Homo sapiens: one gene and its partners. The protein of the gene in region 6 purifies or fractionates together with the protein of the main gene of each other region. This does not show direct contact. Each region holds a gene or a part of one and is shown on either strand. Other genes may lie near its edges. The genes, in order: ANXA2, GDI2, GIT2, EIF4E, PFAS, PAK2 and ADAR.

Region 1 (4,370 bases), on a different chromosome or scaffold from region 6:
GCACATTGCTGAGTGAAAGAAGCCAACTGAAAAGGTAATACAGTGTATAGTTCCAACTTCATACCATTCTGGAAAAGGCAAAATTATGGGGACAGCAAAAAGATCAGGGATTCAGGGGAGGGGATTATTAAGGCAATGAAATGATTCTATCTGATATTGTAATGGTGGATGCATCTATGTACAACACCAACAGTGAATGCTAATGTAAACGATGGACTTTGAGTGGTAACGATGTGTCAATGTAGGTTCATCAGTTCTAACAAATGTACCACCCTGATACGGGATGTTGACAGTGGAAGCTATGCGTATGTGGGAACAGGGGAACATGGGCATTCTTTGTATTTTCTATTCAACTTTGCCATGAACCTAAAACTTTCCTAAAAATGAAGACAATCGGCCGGGTGCGGTGGCTCACACCTGTAATCCCAGCACTGTGGGAGGCCGAGGCAGGCAGATCACGAGGTCAGGAGATAGAGACCAGCCTGGCCAACATGGTGAAACCCCATCTCTACTAAAAATACAAAAATTAGCTGGGCGTGGGGGCGGGCGCCTGTAATCCCAACTACTCGGGAGGCTGAGACAGGAGAATAGCTTGAAACCAGAAGGCAGAGGTAGCAGTGAGCCAAGATCACACCACTGCACTCCAGCCTGGGCAACAAGAGCAAAACTCCGTCTCAAAAAAAAAAAAAGACAATTTAGAATAGTCTTGCTCTGTAGCAGAACCGTCCAATACAGTAGCCACCAGCCTCATGTGGCTACAAAGCATCTGAAATGTGGTCAGTTCAAACTGAGATGTGCTATAAGTGTAAAGGACATTCTGAATTTTGAAGACATAGTATGAAAAAATTATATAAAATTTCTCATTTATAATTTCTTTCTTGGTAAAGGCAGGGTCTTGCTATGTTGCCCAGGCTGGTCTCGAACTCCTAGCCTCAAGTGATCCAAGCACTGAGATTACGGGCATAAACCACTGTGTCCAGCCCAATAATTTATATATTGATCATATATTACAATTACAACTATGATATGTTGAATATATCTTATTTCCATTTAATTTCCTTTTTCCTTTTTCCATTTTTTTTCCTTTTTTTTTTAATGTTTCAGTAGAGACAAGGTCCCACTGTGTTGCCCAGGCTGGTCTTGAATTCCTGGGCTCAAGCAATCCCTCCGCCTTAGCCTACCAAAGCACTGAGATTACAGGGGTTAGCCACCACACCTAGACCTTTTTTTTTTTTTTTTTTGTCTGAGACAGGGTTTCTCTCTCTGTTACCCAGGCTGGAGTGCAGTGGTGCAATCATAGCTCACTGCAGCCTTGATCTCCAGGACTCAAGAGATCCTCCTGCCTCAGCCTCCCAAGTAGCTGGGACTACAGGCGTGTGCCACTACACCTGGCTTTTTTTTTTCCAGTAGAGATAATGTCGCGTTACCTTGCCCAGGCTGACAGTCTTCTTGACAGAGCAAGAAATCTCTAACTTCAACATGGACCAAGAAACATTCTAGAGGGTCTCATCAGTATCCCTCAGCCCGAGAATTACCGAAGCAGAGGTGAAACTCCTAGGATGGACATCAAACCACCCAAGCCCTGGCCTTAACTATCACCCCTGGACTCAGTCAGAACTGGACCAGGTCTGCAGCAGGGGATAAACTGTTGTCATCTGCTGTGCAGAATTCTAGTCTCTACCATAAACAGGCAAGAAATAAAAAATGCCAAACGTAAAACAAAAGCAAAACCAGGGAACTAGCAAGTCAGAGTTGCAAACAGAGTTGTTTCCACTTAGAGAGTATAGATTAAATTCCACTTGTTTATGAAATCAGACACCTCACATTGGTTCCGATGTTTAGAAAATCTCAACTAGAGGCACGGTAACTTTTCATTGTGTTGTTCTTTCAAGTTGTCTTTCCAGCTCTGAGCTTTGTAGACTGCTGCCTACCCGTGTCCCACATGGGACTCCCCAGTACTGTGCAGATCAAAGACAATCTGATAGGCTTCTTTACACTCTCCATTCATGTTAATTCTTCTCCCACAGCCACAACACCTTGAGGAGACTGTTAAAAGCCCCACAAATCTTCCTTTCGGTTTCACCATTCATAACTGTGCTGCTCTTTCATCAAATCAGTCCTGCATGCCACCACCAACTAAATCTCCCCATTTAATCTTGTCAAAATCATTTGACATCATTCAAAATCAGTCCTCCAGCAGAGCCCAGCCTTCAAAGATGAGCATCAGAATCCTGTAAACAGTAAACAGTTCCCTCTGTTTACTCCTCAGCTACAGTTGACTAGGGCCAAAATGTGACTTGCCTCTCCGCACTCACCACTACTTCAGTATCTGCTCCAACAGGGTCACCACGACCCCTACTCTACAGAACTCTATCTTGCCTTTCACTGCCAGGGCACTTTTTGATACCACTTCATTCATCCATTCGGCAGAATGTTTTAAGTGCCCTACACGTGCCAAGTATTCAAATGGTGAATGCATAGGTACAATTCAAAGCAGTAGAAAGTATATGGTTGACCTCATCTTCCCTACATAGTCCCAGTCCCCCTACAGATTTCAGATTATCTTTACATAATGCAGGTGCTAAATCAACTTGAAAACAATGAGTTGCTATTTTGCATAACATTTATACTATGTATAACCATTTTGCAGAAAAAAAAAACAAAACACAAACATCACAATAACCACAAAGTCACACTTACCACAAAGCAGTATCTATGAAATTTGACATTATCCCATGCAGGTGCCTTTTGTATCCATATAAATATTTCCTACTTCATGTGAGTTTAATGGCAAACATTTTCACCCTAGAAATAAAATATGGCCACTTTCCTCCCATGCCGATAGCATTCCGGAAAACATGGTGAACATTCCTAAAACCCACTGGGCTTTCTGTAAGAAGTGTGGCAAGCACCAACCCCACAAAACGGCACAATACCAGGACTCCCTGTATGCCCAGGGAAAGCGGCGTTATGACAAGAAGCAGAGTGACTATGGTGGGTAGACTAAGGCAATTTTCTGGAAAACGGGTAAAATTACAAAGGAGGTTGTGCTGAGGCTTGAGTGTGCTGACCCCATCTGCAGATCTAAGAAAATGCTGGCTGTTAAGACATGCAAACATTTTCAACTGGGAGGAGATAACAAAAGAAAGGGCCAAGTGATCCAGTTCTAAGCATCATCTTTTGTTTTATTATGAGGACAATAAAATCTTGAGGTTATGTCCAAAAAACAAAACAAAATAAAAAGAAATAAAATACAGTGCTTGCTTCTTCACTCCATCAAATCCCCTAGCAATGCAAAGTCATTTTGCATATGATCTATTATTCGCTGGAAGGAACAGTTGGCTTTGCGATTCACTGTTTGTTAAAACATTAGTTTAATATAGCATATTTGACTAATGAGAATGTGTCAGTGTGCTGCTATCCTTGAAAGCAGGAAAAGGAAGTCTTGGCAGTGCTACTGTAGGTTACAAACACTGGTAATACGCAAGGAATTAATCAACGAACCCATACCAAGCATACGCTGAGCCTGCACTATATTAAAGGATACAAAAGACACTTATAAAACTGTGAAATGCAGACTTCCACCCTGCAGGACCTTTGAGCTCTCTTCCCTTCGTGCCTCTGTGACACACTGAGAGTCTAGTCCAGGGTCACCCAGTGAATTAAGTAGCTGAGGCAGGGCCAAAACCCAGATCCCCAGACTCCTGGGCCAATGCCCTTTCAACCTCACCACAATGGTTCTTTATTCCAAGTGATTAAGACACAGAGAGAAAGATCACAGCCATCAGAGCGGGATTAGTTAAGGGCTTAACAGGGAGGTGCTGTCTGCCTAGGCTGAGAAGGGTGAATCACCATGGGAGGTTCCAGCCAAGAAGCAAGGGGGAAGGCCTGGGGAGAGGGGAAGAGGAATAATGCCCCAGGGTGGCAGAAGAACAAGACTACAGGCTGGAAAATGAGCCACGTCCAGTGGGGTGCCCTGTGGGGAACCTAAAATATAAGTCTCTGAATGGTGCAAAGTTAAGCTTGCCTATGGAAATACTGGGGAACCTATGAGCCAAAATGATTGGGACTCAGTACTCATATTTATCTATTCACCAAAACATTTGCTCTGGAGGCAGAATTTTCTTACTGAAAACAACTACTCTGACTTCAGTGTACTTACTGTTTTGAATGAAAATAAAAAATAAAGCCTACATGCTGTATGAGACAATTTCACCTCTACTCACTCCTCATCACCGTATAAAACTCATAAATCCATTAAAAACAGAACCACTACTCCTTTTCTGGCAGACTTCTCTAAAGAACATGAAAATGGCAGTTTGCACCACTCTTTCCAACACTTCAACCTCACCCAGCTTGCCGACTGGTTT
Region 2 (4,370 bases), on a different chromosome or scaffold from region 6:
ACTGTGCCACTGCACTCCAGCCTGGGCGGCAGAGCAAGATTCTGTCTCCAGAAAAATAAATAAGAGAATAAAGAGAAAATTATACCAAATACAAACAGCTACGTAAGAGATTACTGGGACCACTGGGAAATTTGAATATGGTTCTGGATATGATATAATGGTATTATGCTTATGCAGGAGAATGTTATTCTTAGCAGATGAATGCTGAAATATTTTGCTCAAGCCTCATGATGTCTTATCACTTTCAATGGATCAAAACCAGTAACAAAAAAAGAGACATGAAAAAAATACAGCAAACTTTAACTGCTGAACTCTGATGGAAGATTTTTTTATACATCGTATTATTCTTTAAACTTTTCAGTATTACTGAATATAGAAAAAAATCCTTTTTGGTAAGTATTGTCTAATAAGTCACTGATTAAAGTCATTGATGATATCTATCTCCCATAAGACACAGTACACATCATATCCATATACGTAGGTGTTCAACAAACCTCACGCAGAAAAACAATCAATATATTAAAACACACTGTGGAAATGCTATGTGTCCACGTTCAAAAAAAGTAGGAAACAAGGCAGTATAGCAAAAGGAACTAAGCTTTGTAGTCATGTAACTTGGGTTTACAACCCATCTCAGATTTTAACCCCACAGAGACTATGTTAAATGGAGATTAAAAAAAAAATCTTTGAGGGACTGAGAAAATAAATAAAGCCATGAGGAAAGCACTGGACTTGCGCTGGCACATCAGACGATCCTCTACCCTCCCTTCCTAGACTATTCTCTGTTAATGCTAAGAGATAACTGCTCCACATAGCAACAAAAGTCAAAATGTAAATTTCTATGAGCTTCAAACCAGAAGCTCCTGAAAAACAGTGCTCCAGATATTCCATTTAACAAAACAAAATTAAGACCATCTCTAAGGAATAAGGTAGAGATTCACAAGTGAAATACTCACAAAGTGTGAGAGGCGTATGAAATTTGACTAACACTTACATCTTCCAATGGTGTTATAGATGCACTCTCTCCTCCGTAGTAAGGGTTTCGATCCATATGAAGAACTTTCTTGCCATTCACTGACATTATACCTGACAGGATACATTCCTATAGAAAAAGCATAGTACCTTGAAAAGAAAGTTCTACAGCATATTTAAAACAGATCATTTTTTTCAAGCCTGCCATTACACATTCTCTTAGTAATTACACTTATATTCATGCAACATGACATAATTTATGAAGAAAGCCCTTAAGAAACCAGGGGTCCAGGTGTGGTCTGTGGGCTCCTATGCATCCCAAGATTAAAACTGTTTCATAATAACACTAAGACATTAGTCACCTTTTAATTTTTTTTTTTTATTTATTTTTTGAGATAGAGTTTCACTCTTCTTGCCCAGGCAGGAGTGCAATGGCGCAATCTCAGCTCATTGCAACCTCTACCTCCAAGGATTCAAGCAGTTCTCCTGCCTCAGCCTCTTGAGTAAGTGGGATTACAGGTGCCCGCCACCACACCCGGCTAATTTTTTGTATTTTTAGCAGAGACAGGGTTTCACCATGTTGGCCAGGCTGGTCTTGAACTCCTGACCTCAGGTGATCCTCCCGCCTCAGCCTCCCAAAGTGCTGGGATTACAGGCGTAAGCCATCGTGCCCAGCCTAGTCACCTTTTCAGTGTTGACACTTCCACTGATGATGTAAAATCAATGGTGGATAAAACAAATTAAGACAGGGCTCTAAACTATACTAGTCATCATTACAGTCTTCATCGCCAGGCATTCATTTAAGGATGTCCTTGATAGGGTGGGCACAGTGGCTCACGCCTGTAATCCCCAGCACTTTGGGAAGCCAGGGGAGGTGGATCACCTGAGGTCAGAAGAGCAAGACCAGCCTCACCAACATGGAGAAACCACATCTCTAGTAAAAATACAAAATTAGCCGGGCATGGTGGCACATGCCTGTAATCCTAGCTATTCAAGAGGCCAAGGCAGGTGAATTGCTTGAACCTGGGAGGCAGAGGTTGTGGTGAACCAAGATCACACCACTGCACTCCAGCCTGGGCAACAAGAGCTAAACTCCATCTCAAGAACAAAAAAAAGGATGTCCTTGATAAAAGCATTAAAAAGTAACTTTATTGGCCAGGCATGGTGGCTCACACCTGCAATCCCAGCACTTCGGGAGGCCGAGGTGGGTGTAATGCTTGAACCCAGGAATTTCAGACCAGCCTGGGCAATACGGTGAAACCCTGTCTCTACTAAATACACAAAAATTAGCAGGGCATGGTGGTGCATGCCTGTAATTCCAGCAACTCAGGAGGCTGAGGCAGAACTGCTTGAACCCAGGAGGCAGAGGCTGCTGTGAGCTGAGACCACGCCACTGCACTCCAGCCTGGGTGACAGAGCAAGACTGAGTAGCAAAAAGAATTAATAAAGTTATTTAATAAACATATACCCTTCAATAGTCATCTTTTAAACATTGTGTGTGAAAAAATGGGAAGAATACAGACAGCACTTCAGCTCAGGGAAAACCTGTGCCACTGATCTGTAAGCTGAACTAGCCGCTTTTTTTTATGAATAATCATTTTTATTTGAAAGAACTGACCAACAAACTATGATTATTCAGATTTAGGTATTTGACATTTTCTCAAAGAAAACCTAAAGGAAAATAACTGACACGTGCTGCCAATAAGTCAAATTTTAAATGAAAATTAGAATTACCGAAAACTTGGCCGGGCACAGCTGCTCACACCTGTAATCCAAGCACTTTGAGAGGCCGAGGCGGGTGGATCACAAGGTCAGGAGATTGAGACCATCCTGGCCAACATGGTGAAACCCCATCTCTACTAAAAATACAAAACTTAGCTGGGCATGGTGGCGCATGCCTGTAATCCCAGCTACTCGGGAGGCTGAGGCAGGAGAATCGCTTGAACCAGGGAGTTGGAGGCTGCAGTGAGCCGAGATCGCGCCACTGCACTCCAGCCTGGTGTCAGAGCAAGACTCCATCTCAAAAAAAAAAAAAGAATTATGGAAAACTTACAACTACCACCATGGGCACACGTCAGGTTCCCCAATACATGAAGAACTTTTCTAACATTATCAGTGACAATACTAACAAATATGATGTTTTGATAATGTAAAATGAAACATGTCAACATTAAGACCCACTTTACTCAGAGTAAACCTTGTTTTCCAAATAACGGGTGAATGAAATTACAAAATCACACAGGAGGAAAAAAGAGGAATTCAAAGTGCAAGCTAGATCAGTGGGTGTTAATATATCAGAATATAAAACATTCATTAATGTGGCTTCAGATTTCATACTGCTATCTCTTAAAAACTACCACTTGTGCTTTTGTGTAAACCAAAGAATATCTACAATAACCTGAAAGGCTATATTTAAATTACTCCTCCCTTTTCCAATTACATGTCTGTGTGAGACCTGTTTTCATATACTTCAGCCTAGACAATATATCGCAACAGAACTGAACACAGAAGCATGTATGTGAATTCAGTTTTATTAAGCCAGACATTAAAGGATTTGCAGAAAACGTGAAATATTGATAGTCTTCTCACAATTTTGTTTTAGAAAATATACTCAGGCAGATGGCTTAAGCCCAGGAGTTGGATGGAGACCAGTCTGGGCAACAGGGCAAAACCCTATCTCTGCAAAAAATACAAAAATTAGCTGGGTGTGGTGGTGAGCACCTGTAGTCCCTGCTACTCAAGAGGCTGAGAGGTGGGAGGATTACTTGAACCCATGAGGGCAAAGGTGCAGTGAGCCGTGATAAGGCCACTGCACTTCAGCCTGGGTGACAAAGTGAGATCCTATCTCAATAACAAAAAAAAAGTACATATACAGTTAAAATTGTTATACATGTTAACATGTAATCGGTTTATTATTTGTCAGTGATTTATTTATTCCTCCATTTCTAATATGATAAATATCAATAGCTACAACCTTTATAAACAAAAGCTCAAGGTCCTGAATTTTTTAGCACGTGAACAGATCCTGAGACTAAAAAGTTTGAAAACTAGAGCCCTAAGCAAAGCATATAGGACAACCACCAATAAATTGACCATCAACCGAAAAGTATAAATGACCACTCTCAGGAAAAAGATAAAGCAAGCATGAATACACTAAGACAAACCAAATTAAGAAGAGGGAAAAAATTAATACAATTAATGTGAAGAAACACAGAGATGGGGCATATAATCACTCAAAAAGGGTTTGAGTGATCAGTGCTTTATTTCTTAAAGAGACAAAGGAAATTCCATGTATCTTTATAAATCTTTAATATTTCTCAAATTTATCCAAAGGACCCTAGATGTCAAAGAACAATCTTATTCTCTACAAGTCTATTTGACTTTGAAACCCGTATTTT
Region 3 (4,370 bases), on a different chromosome or scaffold from region 6:
TTTTTTTAATGGTTACATTATTTTACTGTGTATGGGAAAGCTATAACTAGCACATCAAACTGTAGTTGTTTTTACAAGTAAGTGGCTTTAAAGACAAATATTAAGTGAATAATATAGACAGTACATGGGTCATTAAGAATGTTGAAAATAGTGTTTAATTAGGTTTGGGAAACCCTGCTCTAAGGTGTCAGAGTACTTTTTTTTCTTTCATACAGAATAAGAACAGTTCAGTCACACTTTAGGTATTTAACTATCCTACTAGTCAAAGCTGAATCCTGCATATAGATTGATCATCTTTCTCATTCTCAAATCAGAAAACAATGATATGAATGATATTCCTAACAAATGAGTGTTTATAACAGGACTTTGTTTACTCTGTTCAGTCACTGATCCCCATTGAATATTTGTGAAAAGAAATTAAAGTCTTATGTCATCCTGCTTGGTTTTAGATGGTTGAGACCTTGTATAATAACGGTGCTAACTCTATATGGGAGCATTCTTTGCTGGACCCTGCGTCTATTATGAGTGGAAGACGTAAAGCTAATCCACAGGATAAAGTACAGTGAGTGGAATGTTTATAAATACTTTTATTTCTTCATAACAAATGGGGCCCACTGAAAGGAGTGCAGCTATTTTTGGTCAGTCTCCGCAAGGGCAGCAGAGGAGGGGGTTACCCTAGTTGTGCATCAGGTTCTTTGCTATTAGAAATGCAGAATGGGGTGGGGCAGGACCATCTGTTTAGCATGGCCACCCAGCAGGAGTAAGTGGCTTCCTCAGTTGGAAACCATGGCTTGGAGTCTGTAAATGTAATCAGATTTAAACTTATACTCAAATAAGAGGCGATCAGACCAGAAATCTAGGTCTGGGCACCCGTCTGCCTGTTGCCTCACTTATAAGATGGGACTAAATGCTGCTTTCTCCCAAAGTTGCTAAATCAGTTCAGACAATTACACAGAGAAGAGGGCTACTATAAAAAGCAGGTACTCTGGAGTCCCAGCCATTATAATAACTAATGTATGTTTTCAAACTGCAGGTCTTAAACCTTGCTGAAACTTACTTGAGCATTGTTCATTTTATTCTCAAGTGGGGGATGTGGGTCACTTCCTCTTCTTTTTACAGTACAAAGAATGGGGATTGTTGTATCTGAACGAGTGAACTGTTTTCTTTTTTGTTTTTGAACCAGTCCCAATAAAGCGGAATTCATCAGAGCCAAGTATCAGATGTTAGCGTTCGTCCATCGCTTGCCCTGCCGGGATGACGATAGTGTGACTGCCAAAGATCTTAGCAAGGTGGGTCACACCTTTTAAAATCCCTAAAAGAGCGGGCTGAGACAGCATATTGTTTTATTTGAAAAAACGAAAAAAAAGTCTGGTTGTGGGCTTTTTTTTTTTTTTTTTTTTTTTGAGACAGAGTCTCTGTTACCCAGGCGGGAGTACAGTGGCGCGATCTTGGCTCCCTGCAGCCTCTGCCTCCCGGGTTCCAGCGATTCTCCTGCCTCAGCCTCCTAGGTAGCTGGGATTACAGGCGCATGCCACCATGCCCAGCTAATTTTTGTATTTTTAGTAGAGACGGGGTTTCACCATGTTGGCCAGGCTGGTTTCGAACTCCTGAGCTCAGGTGATCCGTCTGCCTCGGCCTCCTAGTGTTGGGATTGCAAGCGTGAGCCACTGCACCCGGCCAGGGTTTTTTTGTTTTTCGTTTGTTTTTTTTGAGACAGGGTCTTGCTCTGTTGCCCAGGCTGGAGTGCAGTGGTGCAATCACGGTTCACTGCAGCCTTGACCATCCAGGCTCTAGCAATCCTTCCACCTCAGCCTCCCGAGTAGCTGGAACTACAGGCGCATTACCATACCCAGCTAATATTTTTTATTTTTTGTAGAGACGGGTTCTTGCTATGTTGCCCAGGCTGAAAAAAGTTTTTAAAGAAAGAAAAACAAAAACTCATTTCTGCACATTCATTAATTAATAGCTTTTTTGTCAGTCGGTTTCGTCTTTAATCTGAATTCAAATGGCAGCCATTCATATAGTGGAGGTTCAGGGCAAAGAGGAAAAGTAAGTCTCTGGAAGGCTGTTTGTGTTTTTCCAATATGGCTTTTAAATTATATTTTGATAAGTTTTTTGTTTGTTTAACTTTGAAATAGGAACCATCTCAGAGTTGTTTCTAGAAGGGACTAGAAAGATTATAGGACAATTGTTTCTTTTTAATAAGGACTAGAAAAAGTACTAAAGGAAGGGGACTTCTTCAGGTTTCCAGGTTGAACAGTAAGTATGATCTTCAGAAAGCAATGTGTGACTCAAAGCTATAGTACACAGAATGGTTTATGATACTTGTAAAACGAGTGAGGTGGTTTTCTTTATGTGGGCCTTCGCATGTTTTTGAGAGATGCTGTAAGAAATGTGCATATTTTCAAAGCGCTGCCTTGGATAAATGCTTACTCACACAGAGCATGAGAACTTACTTATTCAGAACTTTTTTTATTACTTTTTGGCCGGGTGCGATGGCTCACTCCTGTAATCCCAGCACTTTGGGAGACTGAGACTGGCAGATCACTTGGGCTCAGAAGTTCAAGACCAGCCTGGGCAACATGGCGAAACCCCGTCTCTACAAAGAATATAACAATTTTAGCCGGGTATGGTGGCCGTGCCTGTAGTACCAGCTACCTGGGAGGCTGAGGTTGGAGGATGACTTGAGCCCAGGAGGTGGAGGTTGCAGTGAGCTGAGATTACACCATGGCACTCCAGCTTGGACAACAGAGCAAGACCCTGTCTCAAAAAAAGAAAACATTTTCTGCATCTATTGAGATGATCATGTGGTTTTTGCTTTTGCTTCTATTTATTTATTTATTTATTTATTTATTTTTATTTATTTTTGAGATAGAGTCTTGCTCAGTCGCCCAAGCTGGAGTGCAGTGGTGCGATCTCAGCTCACTGCAAGTTCTGCCTCCCAGGTTCATGCCATTCTCCTGCCTCAGCCTCCCAAGTAGCTGGGACTACAGGTGCCCACCACCACACCCGGCTAATTTTTTTTGTATTTTTAGTAGAGACAGGGTTTCACCATGTTAGCCAGGATGGTCTCGATCTCCTGACCTCGTGATCCTCCCGCCTCGGCCTCCCAAAGTACTGGGATTACAGGCAGGAGCCACCGCGCCTGGCCTGCTTTTACTTCTATTGATGTGGCAAATTACATTTATTGATTTGTGTATGTTGAGCCAGCCTTGAATCTCAGCAAAAAAGCCTACTTGATCATGATGGGTTAATTTTTTTATTTTTATTTTTATTTTTTATTTTTTATTTTTTTGAGACAGAGTCTCGCTCTGTAGTCCAGGCTGTAGTGCAATGGCATGATCTTGGCTCACTACAACCTCCGCCTCCCAGGTTCAAGTGATTCTCCTGCCTCAGCCTCCCAAGTAGCTGGGATTACAGGCACGTGCCACCAGGCCCAGCTAATCTTTTGGTTTTTTTTTGTTTGTTTGTTTGTTTGTTTGTTTTTGAGACGGAGTCTTGCTCTGTGGCCCAGGCTGGAGTGCAGTGGCGCAATCTTGGCTCACTTCAAGCTCCGCCTCCCGGGTTCATGCCATTCTCCTGCCTCAGCCTCCTGAGTAGCTGGGACTACAGGCGTCCGCCACCACACCCGGCTAATTTTTTTGTATTTTTAGTAGAGACGAGGTTTTACTGTGTTAACCAGGATGGTCCCGATTTCCTGACCTCGTGATCCGCCCACCTCGGCCTCCCAAAGTGCTGGGATTACAGGCGTAAGCCACCACGCCCGGCCATTTTTTGTATCTTTAGTAGAGACGGGGTTTCACCACGTTGGCCAGGCTGGTCTCGAACTCCTAACCTCATGATCCGCCTGTTTCAGCTTCCCAAAGTGCCGGGACTACAGGCCTGAGCCACTGCGCCCAGCCATGGTGGATTAACTTTTGATGTGCTACTGGATTTGGTTTGCTAATATTTTGTTAAGAGTTTTTTAAAAAATCTGTGTTCATCATGGATTTTGGCCTGAAGTTTTCCTTTTTTGTTGTGTCTTTGCCAGATTTTGGTATCAGGCTGATGTTGGCTTCACAGAATGAGTTAAGGAGGAGTCTCTCCTCTTTGATTGTTTGGAATAATTTTAGTAGGATGTTCTTCTTTGTATGTCTGGTAGAATTCAGCTGTGAATCTCTTGAACTGGGGAGACGAAGGTTGCAGTGAGCTGAGATCATGCCACGGCACTCCAGCCTAAACGACAGAGTCTCACTCTGTTGCCCAGGCTGGAGTGTCGTGGCACAATCATGGCTGACTGCACCCTCAACCTCCCTAGTCTCAAATGATTCTCCCACCTCAGCCTCTCAAGTGGCTGAGATCTCAGGCATGTGCCACCAAGCCTGGCTAGT
Region 4 (3,549 bases), on a different chromosome or scaffold from region 6:
TTGTTAATGTTAGAGCTAAAGGTGATAAGATAGCAATATGGACTACTGAATGTGAAAACAGAGAAGCTGTTACACATATAGGGTAAGTTTTGCTCTTTGCCTACTTATTTTACAGTATTAAGATGAGTAAAACCAGAAGTTATTTTATTTGTAGCTTTAGAAATACTTCAGTTTGTAGATCCTGTTTTCCTTGTATTGTTTTCGTGAACACTTTTATAATTTTGAACGGCTCAATTGGTGCGCAACGTCTTGTTTTTTTGGGTTTTTTCACAGCTATTTATTTATTTATTTATTTAGAGATAGAGTCTCACTCTGTTGTCCAGGCTATATATAGTACAGTGGCATGATCTAGGCTCACTGCAACCTCCGCCTCCCGGGTTCAGGAGATTGTTATGTCTCAGCCTCCCGAGTAGCTGGGAATACAGGCGCATGCCACCATGCTTGGGTAATTTTTATATTTTTAGTAGAGACCAGGTTTTGCCACGTTGGCCAGGCTGGTCTTTTAACTTTTGGTCTCAAGTGATCCGTCCACCTCAGCCTCCCAAAGTGCTATCATTACAGGCATGAGCCACTGCGCCTGGCCTTTTTCATATGTTTTTTATTTCTGTAAAATTGCTTTTTCTTAGCAGTGAAGTATATAACCACTAGAGCACTCTCCTTTGGCATGTAGCATTTTTTATTCATTCACAAATGAGAATGTATTATTTCCTACTTTGAAAGTGCTGTTTGGAAAAAAGTACTACTTTGAAAAGAGCTAATGTATGCTCATAATAATAATTCAGTGATTATTGGCAAATAGTATATGTGCATTTAAAGCATGTGTGTTTACTACGTATAATTTTCATTAAAATTTATATAACATATCTTGGTTTTTGTTCCATGTTTAAAACCCACATATGTAGGGTTTTATTAAACCTTTTTTTGTAAATTTTATTCTTTGCAAAAGTGGCTTTTTTTTTTTTTTTGAGACAGGGTCTCACTGTGTTATTCAGGCAAGAGTGCAGTGGTGCAGTCATGGCTCACTTCAGCCTCAACCTCCTGGGCTCAGGTGATACTCCTACCTCAGCCACCCAATTAGCTGCAACTACAGGTGTGTATGACCACACCTGGCTATTTTCTTGTATTTTTTGTAGAGAAGAGGTTTTGCCATGTTGCCCAGACTGGTCATGAACTCCTGGACTTGATCAAGCCACCTCAGCCTTTCAAAGTGCTGAGATTACAGGCGTGAGCCACCATGCTAAACCAGCTGACATTTTTTTTCTAAGATTTCTTTTTACCTCAATTATATTAGTAATATTTGACACCAGGCGCAGTGGCTCACACCTGTAATCGCAGCACTTTGGGAGGCTGAGGCAGGTGGATCACAAGGTCAGGAGATTGAGACCATCCTGGCCAACACGGTGAAACCCCGTCTCTACTAAAAATACAAAAAAAACAATTAGCTGGGCGTGGTGGCGGGCGCCTGTAGTTCCAGCTACTTGGGAGACTGAGGCAGGAGAATGGCATGAACCCGGGAGGCGGAGCTTGCAGTGAGCCAAGATTGGGCCACTGCGCTCCAGCCTGGGAGACAGAGCGAGACTGTCTCACAAAAAAAAAAAAAAAAAAAAAAATTTGACTTACAATTTTATGTTAAAATTAAGTGCTGGTCAGTCAGTGGTCAAAATGTTTGGTTTGCCCCTTTGTGATTTTTCAAATATTATTAATTTTTCTTTTTAAAATTAATTAATTTTTTGAGACAGAGTCACACTCTGTTGCCCAGGCTGGGGTGCAGTAGCGCGATGTCAGCTCACTGCAACCTCCACCTCTTGGGTTCAAGTGATTCTCTTGCCTCAGCCTCCTGAATAGCTGGGACCACAGGCCTGAACCACTGCAGTAGTTTTTGTAGAGACAGGGTTTCGCCATGTTGGCCAGGCTGGTGTCAAACTCCTAGCCTCAAGTCATCCACCTGCCTCAGCCTCCCAAAGTGCTGGGATTTCAGGCGTGATCCATTGCTCTCAGCCATGTAAATTTTTATGTGAACATAATTTATTTCTGGATCAAAAGGTATAGGGATTTTCTACATTTCATGCTATATGGGGTTCCATAAGAGAAAAGAGTTGATTTGTCATCATATTTTAATGTTTCTTCCAGCATCAAAACCTAATTTTGGAGGATTTACTTTTTTTTTTTTTAAATGAGTTAAATTAAGAATTTTTTTCCTACGGAAGTTTTGTATTTTTGTCAATATTAAATGTTTTTGAGTGTATATTAAGACTTCAGATTTTCAAACGAAGATTTTCTTTTTTAACCTTCCAATTTGCATGACTCAATGGTCTTGCTTTTTGACATTTTTAATAATTAAGTATAATTGAAAGGAATGCATTGCATTATAATGCAAATTTGATAATTAACACTTTAGTTACCATAAAATTACTTTTTAATACCTTATTTTAGGGGGAAGGTAGTAAATCTTCTGGAAGGTATAAAAAAAACCTATCCTAGTATCATGTTGGAGGATTTAACTCCATTAATATCTTTATTCCTTTATTTTTATTTGATTTTTGCTTATTTTTGAATTTTTACTATTTTTTTCCTAAAGATTCTTTTTTCTTTTTTTTTTTTTTTTTTGAGACGGAGTCTTGCTCTGTCACCCAGGCTGGAGTGCAGTGGCACAGTCTCACTCAAGCTCACTGCAAGCTCTGCCTCCCAGGTTCACGCCATTCTCCTGCCTCAGCCTCCCGAGTTGCTGGGACTACAGGCACCTGCCACCACACCCGGCTAATTTTTTGTATTTTTAGTAGAGGCGGGGTTTCACCATGTTAGCCAGGATGGTCTCGATCTCCTGACCTCGTGATCCGCCCGCCTCGGCCTCCCAAAGTGCTGGGATTACAGGCGTGAGCCACCGCGCCCAGCCAAAGATTCAAATTTTTAAGATGACCTATGAAGCTCTCTGTGATCTTCCTCTGAAACCTTGTCAGCTTTATCTCATGTTCACTTTACTTACAAGCCATAGCCACACAGCCTAATTTTTATTTCTCAGCTTTCAAATGTGCTCATTCTCTTAACATTATCCTTTTGACCTCGTGATATTTAAAGGGGAAGACTTCTCTAATGTTGTAGATGAGATTAGAATCTCCTTGTTATACAGTATCACAGCCCTTATGTTTACTCTTTGGCACTCATGACAAGTGCCATTTTATTCTTGCAATAGAGTCATGTCTTACTTGAAAATTAGGTTGTAAAGTTAGTATGTAAAGCAGAAATTACATTCTCCCTCGAAGTGTTTCATTCACTCCCTCGAAGTGTTTAATCTCCCTCAAAGTGTTTAGTTTTTGTTTGTGCAGTCTTATAACAGGTATGGTTAATATAATTTGTGTAGTAATATACAATATTTGCTAGGGTTCAGACGTGAAATGTAACATTTTAGATCAAAGAATGAAACATGTTTGTTTTACAGATTTCTGTTTTTAAGTATGCATGTGATACAGGTCTGTCATGTATTTGTGATTATTTGATTATGTTTTCTCTACTAGACTATAAATGCAGTCAGCTCAGGGACTGTCCTTACTT
Region 5 (4,370 bases), on a different chromosome or scaffold from region 6:
TTTATTTTTTATTTTTATTCTTTTTTGGAGACAGGGTTTCACTCTGTCACTCATGCTGGAGTGCAGTGGTATGATCATAGCTCACTACAGCCTTGAGCTCCTTGGCTCAAGCGATCTTCCCACCTAAGCCTCCTGGGTAGCTGGGACTACAGGTGTACACCACCATATCCAGCTAAGTTTTATTTCTTAATTTTTTTAGAGACAGGGGTCTGACTGTATTCCCCAGACTGGTCTCAAACTCCTGGCCTCAAGTAATCCCCCTGCCTTGGCCTCCCAAAGTGCTGGGATTACAGGCGTGAGCCACTGTGCCCAACCAACTATACTTTTTACTGTTATTTTAGAATGTACTCATTCTACTTATATAAAGCAAGTTTATTCTGGCTGGGCACCATGGCTCACACCTGTAATCCCAGTGCTTTGGAAGGCTGAAGCAGGAGAACTGCTTGAGCCCAGGAGCTCAAGGCCACAGTGAGCTAGGACAGAACCACTGTTCTTCAGCCTGGGTGACAAAGTAACACCCTGTCTCTAAAAAGAGAAAAAAAATCTGACTTGAGAAAGAAAATGCAGATTAAAAATAATAATAATTAACAAAAAAGAGAAAAAAAAGTTTACCTAAAAACGGTATGCCATGTTACATTGACAGTAGCTTCATATTATCTCATATTTACCACGTCTTTTTTTTTTTTTTTGACAGTGGTGCGATCGCAGTGGTGCGATCTCCACTCACTGCAACCTCCACCTCCCAGCTTCAAGTGGTTCTTGTGCCTCAGGAGGCTGGGACTATAGGCATGCACCATGACGCCTGGGTAATTTTTTTTTTTTTTTTTTTGAGATGGAGTCTCCATCTGTCGCCCAGGCTGGAGTGCAGTGGTGGGATCTCAGCTCACTGCAAGCTCCACCTCCTGGGTTCACGTCATTCTCCTGCCTCAGCCTCCGAGTAGCTGGGACTACAGGTGCCCGCCACCACACCTGGCTAATTTTTTTATTTTTTTAGTAGAGACGGGGTTTCACCGTGTTAGCCAGGATGGTCTCGATCTCCTGACCTCGTGATCTGCCCACCTCAGCCTCCCAAAGTGTTGGGATTACAGGCATGAGCCACCATGCCCGGCAGATGCCTGGCTAATTTTTGTGTTTTTAGTAGCAACAGGGTTTCAGCATGTTGGTCAGGCTGGTCTTGAACTCCTGATCTCAGGTGATCCACCTGTCTCAGTCTCCCAAAGTGCTGAGATTACAGGTGCGAGCCACCCTGCCTGGCCCACCACGTCTTGATTGCATTATTTTCTCTTGTGCTTATTTTATTCTCATGCTGTTTTGTTCATCATGGCTCCCAAGTGTACAAAATTCCTGGATAATATTGCCAGTAAGAGGCTGTGTGGATCGTGTAGCAGGCTATGCCATCTAGGTTTGTGTATGTACAGTCTATGAAGTGGGCACAATAATGAAATTACCTAATAGCCACATTTCTCAGAATGAGTTGTCCATCATTATGTGACACATAAGATAAGCCAACATATTAAAAACTAACCACTGAAGTGTTCCCTAAGTTCCCTCCCTGTAGCCATCCTGTGCTGGGGAGAAAGCTGGCTGGATCCAGAGAAAGGTGGCAGGCTCTTACCTGGCTCTGGGGCCTCCTTGCTTATGTGGTCAGCTTCCATGGACCCAATGCCCCCACTAAACATGATGGGCTTGATCCACTCACGCCGCTGGCCGTCTGGGAGCTGGAGGCCCAAGGAGCGGGCGAAGCCTGGAGTGTGAACATCAGAGGGACCTGTCACTCAGTTCCCCCAGTGCTCGCCCAATAGCACAGCCCCTGGGTCGCACACCCCACCCACAAGCCCCTCTGGGTGTTTGTCATCCCTCCACACCCCAGCCTCACCAGCCAGCACTGGTTCCCCAAACTTGTTGCCATAGTCAGAAGCTCCATTACTGGCTTCAATGGCAACCTCCAGGGGCCGGGCAAAATTCCCAGGATACTGGAAGCTTGGATCCTCCCAGGGCAGATTGTAACCTGGGAGGGAAGGAGAGAGAACTGGATGAACTGAATGAACTGTGAAGACAGGCCGGAGCAGCCTGCATCCTTCAGGAAGAGTCAAGGCCACCAAGGACCACCTGCATGGTTGCAATGTTCCACTTCAGGAAGTCCTGCTTTAGGAAGCCCTAGAGCCTGCAGTGAGGCACTGGTCTTCTTTCCACCACCCACACCAGCCTTCCCTCTGAATCTCGCAATCAGAGTTACACAGGCTTTCTGTTTTTTTTTTTGAGATGGAGTCTCGCTCTATCACCCAGGCTAGCGTGCAGTGGCGTGATCTTGGCTCACTGAAAGCTCCGCCTCCCGGGTTCACGCCATTCTCTCGCCTCAGCCTCCTGAGTAGCTGGGACTATAGGCGCCCGCCACCACGCCCAGCTAATTTTTTGTATTTTTAGTAGAGACGGGGTTTCACCGTGTTAGCCAGGATGGTTTTGATCTCCTGACCTTGTGATCCGCCCACCTCAGCCTCCCAAAGTGCTGGGATTACAGGCGTGAGCCACCACGCCCAGCCAAGTTTCTCAGGCTAAGAAACCAGATTTGAGGGGCAGGTACTGATCATAAGACCAACCCAATATCATGCTTTCTGGCTGAATGAAGGCTAGTTTTTAAAGAAAATCGTAGACCTGCAAAAGCAGTCTGGCCACCTCATCTCCCCAGGTCTACACTTATGACCATAGTTAGTGAAAGGCCAGCTATCCTAGAGCCCTTCCTCCTGAGAAAAGGCACACAGGATAACCCTATGGACCTAACAGATAGAAGTTTGCTGCCTGCCAGGACAAGGAATCTGGAAGGGAAGGTGGATAGAGAGGAAGGAGATGGAACCTGGAATATGCAGATTTCCAAAGCAATAGCCGGCAGTGCCAGCCACCACGTGGGCCCCGCGGCCTGTGCACTGGACATCTCGAATCCGGCCCCCTGTGCCAGTGGTTGCACCACTAAAGGGGCATACTCCTGCAAAGAGAGAGTGGGGAGAGGTCTGGGTGCCTCAGAGACAAACCCCCATCTCTGACCACCCCCACTGAAAATAAGGACAACCAATTTCCCTGATTATTTTCCCCAGGCCCACTCCAGGGGCCTGGGACCTTTGCCCTACCCTATTCTGTGATCTCACCTATTTCTCCAGGGAACCCAGCTCACCTGTGGGAAAGTTGTGAGTCTCTGCTGTGAAGACAACATGTCTCAGCCCTTGCTGTTGCTGGAAGCGGCTTGGCCGTGTGGGGTCCTCAGGCCGTAGGAATCGGACTTCCTTTCCCTGGATTGCACTGTGGACATACCCGTCATGGACCTTGCTTCCTTTCTGGGACCTACACTAACCCAACCAGGGCCTGGGGCCTCCCCTCCCCGGGTCCTGACGCCAACCCAGTCTAGGGCACAGCACCTGCTGTTATCACAGAATTTGAGGACGTTGTTGGGGTTCGAGGATTCCTGGGTGCTCATGATGGACTCAAACAGTGAGTGCACCAGCTTCTGCCCATCCACGTGGAGCTGGCCCTTGAAGAACCAGTGTCGGCTGTGCTCGCTGCAGGGGGCGATGCAGGGAGGGGAAGGCAGGTGGAAACGGGGTCATTTCTTAATGCCATGTCTTCTCACCAGCATTTAACAGCAGAGTTACAGCCAAATTCATACTTAGATGACAGATCAAAATATATTCCAAAAAGTCATAATCTTCAAGTATTCTGTCATTTTGGACTATCCAGAGCCAAAGTGAAGATAAAACCAAGATTTGAATGTAGACTCCTTGATGGATGACGGGAGCCCAGGCCCTCAGAGACTCAGGGAGGCCCCTAAGCCAAGGGAGGAACATGAAGGTGAGCCCCTGTGGTCTCTCCCAACACCCATGGGCTCAGGTATGGGAACAACCCCATTTCTCCTCACCTATTGGACTGCGCCAAGTCAAAGGCCTCCACAGTGCTCGGGTTCCGCTGTAGCTCCTGGAAGCGCTTGGTGTAGAAGTCTAGGTCCCAAGAGTCTAAAGCCAGACCTAGGAGACAAATCCAGGAAGAGGTGACTATGGAACTCAGGCAGCCACATTCCAGATCTCAGCACCCCTACTGGCCTATCCTGGACCCTACATCTCCCTCCCCAGCTACTCACCAAGCTCCTGGTTGGCCTTCTCCAGCGCAAGCCGGCCCTCACCCAGTATATTGATAGGGCCATTGAGGGGTTCCGGCATGCTCTCAGGGGAGAAACTCTGGATGGGATGGGGGAAGTGCTGCTCTGTCATCCGGTCGTGCAGGGTAGCCAGAGCAATGGCTTCCACCTCAGCTGACGGGGGGTGGGCAAACTAGGGGTGCAGACACACAGAGGGCAAGGGGTGAAGAGTTTAAGAATGGAGAGAAAT
Region 6 (4,370 bases):
TAAAATAAATTACAGCCATCAGAGGTAAATAACTACTCAATAGGTGTTTTTAGCTAGCCACCTGATTAGTTGAAGAAGCCGTATTAAATAGAAATTCCTTGATGTGATACTTAATGTAACTAAAATTTATAATGACCTTCAGAACAGTTTAGTTAGTTTTGGTAATGTTAACATATACAAACGTGAACACAAAGAACTTGCTAGCATATATTTTCCTCTCCATCCCTCAGTTTTCCTTCTGGTACTATTTTACTGAATATAGACTGTGGAAAGGTGCTGAACAGTTGAACCTTGTCAGTCTTCAGAGTCATCTGAAACTTAAGTTATCGCATAAACACAGTCAGTTTTTGGAAACAGTCGTTTTATTTGCAGTTTCTCAATTGGGAGGAAACAGTCTCCTGGAGTTTTATTTTTTTATATTTTATTTTATTTTATTTATTTATTTATTTTATTTTTATTTTTTTTGAGTTAGAGTCTCGCTCTGTCGCCCAGGCTGGAGTGCAGTGGCGCAATCTTGGCTCACTGCACGCACCGTCTTCTGGGTTCACTCCATTCTCCTGCCTCAGCCTCCCGAGTAGCTGGGACTACAGGCGCCTGCCACCACGACCAGCTAATTTTTTGTGTTTTTAGTAGAGACGGGGTTTTACCGTGTTAGCCAGGATGGTCTTGATCTCCTGACCTTGTGATCCACCCACCTCGGCCTCCCAAAGTGCTGGGATTACAGACGTGAGCCACCATGCCCGGCCCCAAATCTGACTGTTTTAAATGTCACCAGATGTCTCTGACATAACAAAGCCCAGAGGATCTTTGATTTTGGTCTTAACAAGTAACATTGTTTACTTTCAGGACATTGTATATGTATGCTTAGGGTAACTTTATTAAAATATTTGGTACTCACCATATATATATATTTCATAAACTTTTTCATGATTCATAGAATCGCCTTATTATGTTAGATTATAATTCTATTGAGTTATCTAAGAGCTAATGAGATTTAGTGGTTTTGAAATGAGCTATCAAAGAAGCAAACTTTTTGAAGTACGTTCATAAAGGGCGATAGTCGCATTTAAGCCTATTGGACTTGTTTTCCTTACTTTGCTCATCATCAATGCAGCTGAATGCCAAGGGAACAGAAGCACCCGCAGTAGTGACAGAGGAGGAGGATGATGATGAAGAGACTGCTCCTCCCGTTATTGCCCCGCGACCGGATCATACGAAATCAGTGAGTCTCCATCGGTGATCTAGGCTGTGTGTGTGCACGTGTGTTTTAAAAAATAGCAGAGTTTGTATTTGACTTTCAGTGATTGCTTTTAAAAAGCCCTCAAGTTTAAAATCGTTTAGTATGGGGAAATTTAACCAAGAAATCTGTACCCAAAGACCACTCACCTAAAACTAGTTTTCTGAAGATTAAAATGTGATGTCTTTAAAAGTTAACGCACTCACCTCACTGGGCTTTTTTCTTTGTATAGTACACCTTTTCCAGAGGGTTCGTCTATTTCCCAAGCTTTCTCTGTTTATCTCAATGTAGATGACGACTAAATCTAAAACTTAGAGCTTTCCTCTTACCCAGATTATGCATTTTAATCTCCCATTTTACACTACTCTCAGCGCCTTGCTGTCATTCAAAAGGCAGTTGAGAATGAAATTCCTAACCAGGTAAGGGAGAATTTTAAAAATGATGACCTTAAATGGAGCCAGGAAGAGAGGAATGACTGCGGTTACCATTCTGCTCCCTTCAGTACTGCAGGTAGAGTGTGCGGAAGGTGCTGTGCCGTGGAATGGGCTGTGCTCCTGGCACAGCGGGCAGGCAGAGCTCAGGAGACAGCCTCTGGATGCCAAGCTGATGGCAGAGGACTCCGTTTTCTTTAGCCTTTCAATCTGGCTGTTTGAAATGGGTGGTAGGCATTATAATTGTGTAAAAACTTTCATGGGAATTAATAATAGTTATTTCAACATCAAGGTTTCTGTTCTTTTGCATTTTACTTACCATTTGTAGTAAAAACATGATTTTTAAACCGTGCTTTTTGATACATTGTTATACCATTTTAGACCTGGTCACACTTAAATTTCATTCATGGACCTGCTGTTTTACTAGACAGCTTTTCAAATATATTCATGCTATGCCAAAGAAAAATGTTTCACATTTATTCTTCTTAGTTACACATCTTTTATATCTGAAAATAGTGTTCTCATTATTTAGAACAATGGAAAAGACTACTTAGTTCAGGTTAAAAATCAAAGAACTGAATTAGTTTGCCAGGAAGAATATCTGAAAACATTATTCCTCAAACCTTGGTAATGAACTGTGTCTCCACAGATTTACACACGGTCTGTAATTGACCCTGTTCCTGCACCAGTTGGTGATTCACATGTTGATGGTGCTGCCAAGTCTTTAGACAAACAGAAAAAGAAGACTAAGATGACAGATGAAGAGATTATGGAGAAATTAAGTATGTTATCTACATTTTACATCATTGTTAAATTGTTCACGGCTCTTAAAACATTTGGCCCAGATGGATTTTAACTTACACTTTACATTGTGACTTAAAGTATAAAGAATAAATTGTTTCCTTATAGCAACAGTAGCTTCAATTACAATCTGGTGATGTCACCAGGTTCACCCCTAAATCCCAGCACTAGGTCAGGAGATCAAGACCAGCCTGGCCAACATGGTGAAACCCCGTCTCTACTAAAAATACAAAAATTAGCTGGATGTGCTGGCATGTGCCTGTAATCCCAGCTACTTGGAGGCTGAGGCAAGAGAATCACTTGAACCCAGGAGGTGGAGGTTGCAGTGAGCCAAGATTGCGTCGTTGGGCTGGGCGCGGTGGCTCACGCCTGTAATCCCAGCACTTTGGGAGGCCGAGGTGGGCGGATCACAAGGTCAGGAGATCGAGACCATCCTGGCCAGTATGGTGAAACCCCTCCTCTACTAAAAATACAAAAATCAGCTGGGCATGGTGGCATGTGCCTGTAGTACCAGCTGCTTGGGAGGCTGAGGCAAGAGAATCACTTGAACCCGGGAGGCGGAGGTTATAGTGAGCCGAGATCGCGCCACTGCACTCCAGCCTGGCAACAGTGAGACTCCATCTCAAAAAAAAAAAAAAAAAAGCGAACCGGCCGGGCACTGTGGCTCATGCCTATAATCCCAGCACTTTGGGAGACCAAGGTGGGTGGATCACTTGAGGTCAGGAGCAAGACTAGCCTGGCCAATGTGGCAAAACCCCATCTCTACTAAAAACAAAAATTAGCAAGGTGTCATGGCAGGTGCCTGTAATCCCAGCTACTTGGGGAGCTAAGGCAGGAGAATCACTTGAACCTGGGAGGCGGAGATTGCAGTGAGCCGAGATCGTGCCACTGCACTCCAGCCTGGGCGAAAGAGCGAGACTCAGTCTCAAAAAATAATAATAAATAAAATTAACAATTAAAGAATGCTAATCTAGAGGGTTCAAGGAAAAATACTGTATGGAAGGATTGTTTTAAACATAAAGCCTGGGCATAGTGGCTCAAACCTATAATCTCGGTACGTTGGCTGGCCAAGATAGGAGGATAGCTGGAGTCCAGGAGTTCAAGGCCGAACTATACAACTTAGACCCCGACTCCACCCCCTCAAAAAAAAAAGAAAAAAAGAAAATTAACGAGACCTGGTGGTGCATGTCTGTAGTCCCAGCTGACTGGGAGCCTGAGGCAGGAGGATTGCTTGAGCCCGTGAGTTCAAGGCTGTAGTGAGCTGTGATTGCGCCACTGCACTCCAGCCTGGGTGACAGAGTGAGACCCTGTCTCTAAAAAATAAACAAATGTTTATATGCCCCATGTTTATTTGGTTTTGATTTCTCAGTGCTTTCAAGTATAAACCTGGCTCTTACTCTGTTATTATTATTATCTTTTTTTTTTTTTTTTTTTGAGACAGAGTCTCGCTCTGTCACCCAGGCTGGAGTGCAGTGGCGTGGCTCACTGCAATCTCTGCCTCTCCAGTTCAAGCGTTTCTTCTGCCTCAGCCTCCCGAGTAGCTGGGGCTACAGGTGTGCGCCACCACACCCCGCTAATTTTTGTAGTTTTAGTAGAGATGGGGTTTCACCATGTTGGCTGGGCTGGTCTCAAACTCCTGACCTCAGGCATGAGTCACCACACCTGGCCTGCTCTGTTACTCTATGAGCATATAAGAATTATTTTAGGAGAGCTGCTACTTAAAAAAAAAAAAAAAATTAACTAGAATCCTAATTGTCATCATTTAGTTGTGACCTTTAGCTGTCACATCCCCAGTCTTTTTGGTATCTTTTTGTTCTTAGCCTCTTATTATTGATCCTGTTTCTTTGCTTGTTGACTTGAGGTTGGGTACCTACATAAAACTATTTATGTCAGTTTCCTTG
Region 7 (3,500 bases), on a different chromosome or scaffold from region 6:
TTATGATATTATTAAAGGGTCCAGGATGAGTCTTCTAGAAATTCTGATGTAAATTACAATGTGAAAAAAGGTACATTCTCTCTGAAATTCAAGATGGAGAGATAATTTGGATGTCATCTATGATGTAAAAAGAAAATGGTCTGTCTCCTAAAACTACAACCAAGCCTGTCCTGGTCCTGGCTGCAACTTTACTCCAAATATGCACATTCCTGGAAGTCAAACAGCTGGTAGTAGTGGGGTTTGGAGGAGGTAGAAAACACCCCTGAAGGAGAGCTGGAATTATGTACCTAATAGGTGATCCTCTCTCAAGGGATGTTTTCCTACTCTGGGCCTTGAAATCTTGCGTCTCAAGTCCCGTGGGACAAGATATTTAATAGTGGGCTCTGGCTGGGAGCAGTGGCTCACGCCTGTAATCCCAGCACTTTGGGAGGCTGAGGTGGACCTCACGAGGTCAGGAGATTGAGACCATCCTGGCTAACACGGTGAAACCCCATCTCTACTAAAAATACAAAAAAATTAGCCAGGCGTGGTGACAGGCGCCTGTAGTCCCAGCTACTCGGGAGGCTGAGGCAGGAGAATGGCGTGAACCCGGGAGGCGGAGCTTGCAGTGAGCCGAGATCGCGCCACTGCACTCCAGCTTGAGAGACAGAGTGATACTCCATCTCTAAATCAATCAATCAATCAATCAATCAATCAATCAATCGTGGGCTCTGCTGGGGAAGGGCCCTGCTGGGTACGTAATCAAAAGGTGCCTGATGAACCCCACCCCACCCAGACGCAAATTTACCCACAAAGGGAGGTTCTTTGAAATGGCTCCTTTCCAAAGGCTGAGGGACAGCCCTGTCCCCCACAGGTTCATGTCAGATGCCACTGGTGCTGTTATCAGAAACCCCAGGGCCACAGGTCCCTTTGTTCCCATTTTCACCTCCCCCAAGAAACCAGGACTTAAAACTTTCTAAGAATTCAGATTCTTGTTTTTTTTTTATTTATGAGGAATGTATATTGTTAAGTCACTGTTATCAAGGGACACATAAAAGCAGAATCATAAAACTGGACTGCAGCCATCATCACAGTACCCGAGTCTATGCTTGGGGGTCTTCCTCACTCTGCTCTTGGAGTCACAACCAAGACTCCAAAAAACCAACGAAGTCCCTTCAATGTGAGTAAAGGAAACAGCTTCAAGCACTGACAATTTTTACAAGTGATTATTCAAGGAATGCACAGTAGCCACAGTTCAGACAAATCAACTACAAAAATCATTAAAAAGAAGAGTAGGGAGGGTCACTGCTTATTAAAAACAAAAGACTGGACAAAGAAAGTGAAGATAACAGTGGGCAGAAGCTCTGCCTCCTCTGTCCTGTGTGACTCAGAGGGGCATGGGGGCGCAGGGATGTGCGATCTGACACGGCTCGTTTCCAGCAGATGCGTGGAATTCAGGGATGCCTCGCTCTCTTCCTACAACAGAAACTGAATACTACAGGCTTGCTAGATAAGATCTTGGGGGTGAGTGGGGGTTCTGATCTTGTGAGAGCCTGTGTTCCCAGTTAAAGAAGAGGCAGCTGGCCAGAGCTCTGCTGGAGAACCTAATGCCCAAGATGGACCAGAGAGGCCAAACAACCTGAGGACTCAGCAGGTGACAACCCTGTAGCCTGAAGAGGAGAGGGGCTGCGCTGCCTTCTGATGCTGAGAACCACAGACCTCTCTGCCCTGGATGTGGGTGCCAAGACTGATTTACTGTGCCCCCAGCAGACCCAGAGCCAGGGAGCAGGCCTCTTCCACTCCAGGAGACAGGCGCCACTTCCCTACCAGTTCCTTGGGATGCTTTGGTGTTCTGCAAAGGCATCCTTAGTCTATTTTTAGAACTTGCATTTTCTTACTTTGGTCAATTTTTGGTCAAAAGTACAGAGAGCATAGAATAAAAGCAAAGATGTGAATGTCTCTACCAGACAGAGGATGACCTAGTCAGCAGTTTGGAGGGAAATCATCTGAGGGTGCTGGCTCAGCACGTTCCCAGATGAAGGTCTGTCATCTAAAGGAGAGAGGCAGGCTCAGCTCCTGAAGGTCGCAGAGCCTCAGTAGTCCTCCTGAGTGTGTCTAGCTGACTGTTATCGAGGGACACGTAAAAGCAGCATCACAAAACTGGACTGCAGCCATCACCACGGCACCAAGTCTATGCTTGGGCTCTTCCCTGCTCTGCTCTTGGAGTCATGACCAACACTCTAAAAGCCAACAAAGTCCCTTCAACATGAGTAAAGGAAACAGTTTCAAGCACTGACAGTTTTTACGAGTGACTATTCAAAGAATGCACAGGAGCCAGAGAGCCAGACTCCACAGAGAGGCCAAAGGCTCTGAACACACGAGTCAATGTTCATGGAGGTATAGACAAAGGATTCTACCTCACAGAGTTTGAAGACAACCTGCCCTTTCACCCACAACTACTGCTTTCTATGTCAACCCTATAAAGATCAGGTCTGCGCCCTGCCCACGAGCCTACTTCTGAAGCCATCTGGAAAAATGAAAGCACTTGGATAAATGGAAAAGTATGCCTGAATTTTAAATCTGCTCAATTACAGGTTATCTGTAGCAGTTAAGAATCAACATCTATGGCATTCTTTAAAACACTCCTAATTTACATGTGACTTAGTCAACTTCCCTTGGTGTCACTGTCATGAGAGATATTACACCGGGTGGAACAGTGACGTTAAGCCAACAGGATTTTTTGCCCTTATTCTTGCTAAGTCATGATTATCTGAGCAGAGATGATTTTATACCCTCTAGGATTTGTCCCGTTGGCTAGGGTGTACGCCCAGCATTGGCGGGGAAAATATTCCTAGGAATGCTTTAGGAGAAGAGGCAGCTGGAAGCTTGGCAATATTCCAAGGCATGCCCGTGCTCCCTGGGAAGTGGTCTGTGTCATCCTGCCGGGTGAAACCTCTGCTATTGCTTGAGCAGCTCCCTTAACCCAGTCTGGCTGGTTCTAGACTTCCCAGCTGCCGGAGAAAGTGATACACTTCCAGGGAAGCAGCTTTCCTTGCCTTGCCCGCCCTGCAGCTGGCTAAAGTGCAGGATGGGAGGATGGCTGGGCATTATCTGCAGGCTCCAATCACACTTCCGTGGCACTGGGAACTGCAGTTTTCAACTCCTACCCTTACAAATGTTTCACCAAATCCTTTATGTTCACCTCTTTGCCCTCTGAGGGGGAAAAGGAGACATTCAGATCACAAGGAAAGAATCTCAGAAGGGAAAGAGGGGAAGTAGAGGGGTCTGCGTAATCCACAAATGAAATTATCAGTCCCTGACATGATCCAGAGTTGACTGAAACCTAATCAAGACCGCAAGAGGTCAGTGTAGCAAACACAAAGGGAAAGGAAATGGAAACAAATCAAAACAAAACTTTTAAGAGGAAATGGACCGCAGGTGCTCAGTGACTATGTATGCTTTGGGTAGAAAGAAAAGATAACTTCTTAGGTTTCTGCCTCTTCACTTGGGGGAAAAAAGGG

Evidence for each region.
Region 1: the proteins of PAK2 (region 6) and ANXA2 purify together in Homo sapiens (co-immunoprecipitation; one large-scale study listed by IntAct). This does not show direct contact.
Region 2: the proteins of PAK2 (region 6) and GDI2 purify together in Homo sapiens (co-immunoprecipitation; one large-scale study listed by IntAct). This does not show direct contact.
Region 3: the proteins of PAK2 (region 6) and GIT2 purify together in Homo sapiens (affinity purification with mass spectrometry; 3 studies listed by BioGRID and IntAct, with this or other methods). This does not show direct contact.
Region 4: the proteins of PAK2 (region 6) and EIF4E purify together in Homo sapiens (co-immunoprecipitation; one large-scale study listed by IntAct). This does not show direct contact.
Region 5: the proteins of PAK2 (region 6) and PFAS fractionate together in Homo sapiens (co-fractionation; one large-scale study listed by BioGRID). This does not show direct contact.
Region 7: the proteins of PAK2 (region 6) and ADAR purify together in Homo sapiens (affinity purification with mass spectrometry; one large-scale study listed by BioGRID and IntAct). This does not show direct contact.

The regions. Positions count from the first base shown.
Region 1 is NC_000015.10:60,387,513-60,391,882, forward strand, and holds part of ANXA2 (annexin A2), read right to left. Parts: exon of another isoform or gene 2,701-4,370; intron 1-2,700. UniProt on the Homo sapiens protein: Calcium-regulated membrane-binding protein whose affinity for calcium is greatly enhanced by anionic phospholipids. It binds two calcium ions with high affinity. May be involved in heat-stress response.
Region 2 is NC_000010.11:5,799,604-5,803,973, forward strand, and holds part of GDI2 (rab GDP dissociation inhibitor beta), read right to left. Parts: exon of another isoform or gene 3,488-4,370; intron 1,103-3,487; coding exon 995-1,102; intron 1-994. UniProt on the Homo sapiens protein: GDP-dissociation inhibitor preventing the GDP to GTP exchange of most Rab proteins. By keeping these small GTPases in their inactive GDP-bound form regulates intracellular membrane trafficking.
Region 3 is NC_000012.12:109,985,882-109,990,251, reverse strand, and holds part of GIT2 (ARF GTPase-activating protein GIT2), read left to right. Parts: intron 1-449; coding exon 450-562; intron 563-1,183; coding exon 1,184-1,289; intron 1,290-4,370. UniProt on the Homo sapiens protein: GTPase-activating protein for ADP ribosylation factor family members, including ARF1.
Region 4 is NC_000004.12:98,881,455-98,885,003, reverse strand, and holds part of EIF4E (eukaryotic translation initiation factor 4E), read left to right. Parts: coding exon 1-82; intron 83-3,549. UniProt on the Homo sapiens protein: Acts in the cytoplasm to initiate and regulate protein synthesis and is required in the nucleus for export of a subset of mRNAs from the nucleus to the cytoplasm which promotes processes such as RNA capping, processing and splicing.
Region 5 is NC_000017.11:8,255,445-8,259,814, reverse strand, and holds part of PFAS (phosphoribosylformylglycinamidine synthase), read right to left. Parts: intron 4,314-4,370; coding exon 4,124-4,313; intron 4,011-4,123; coding exon 3,905-4,010; intron 3,549-3,904; coding exon 3,408-3,548; intron 3,292-3,407; coding exon 3,167-3,291; intron 2,981-3,166; coding exon 2,852-2,980; intron 2,009-2,851; coding exon 1,877-2,008; intron 1,745-1,876; coding exon 1,616-1,744; intron 1-1,615. UniProt on the Homo sapiens protein: Phosphoribosylformylglycinamidine synthase involved in the purines biosynthetic pathway. Catalyzes the ATP-dependent conversion of formylglycinamide ribonucleotide (FGAR) and glutamine to yield formylglycinamidine ribonucleotide (FGAM) and glutamate.
Region 6 is NC_000003.12:196,805,465-196,809,834, forward strand, and holds part of PAK2 (serine/threonine-protein kinase PAK 2), read left to right. Parts: intron 1-1,114; coding exon 1,115-1,222; intron 1,223-2,317; coding exon 2,318-2,450; intron 2,451-4,370. UniProt on the Homo sapiens protein: Serine/threonine protein kinase that plays a role in a variety of different signaling pathways including cytoskeleton regulation, cell motility, cell cycle progression, apoptosis or proliferation.
Region 7 is NC_000001.11:154,581,105-154,584,604, forward strand, and holds the end of ADAR (double-stranded RNA-specific adenosine deaminase), read right to left. Parts: 3' UTR 953-3,500; downstream 1-952. UniProt on the Homo sapiens protein: Catalyzes the hydrolytic deamination of adenosine to inosine in double-stranded RNA (dsRNA) referred to as A-to-I RNA editing.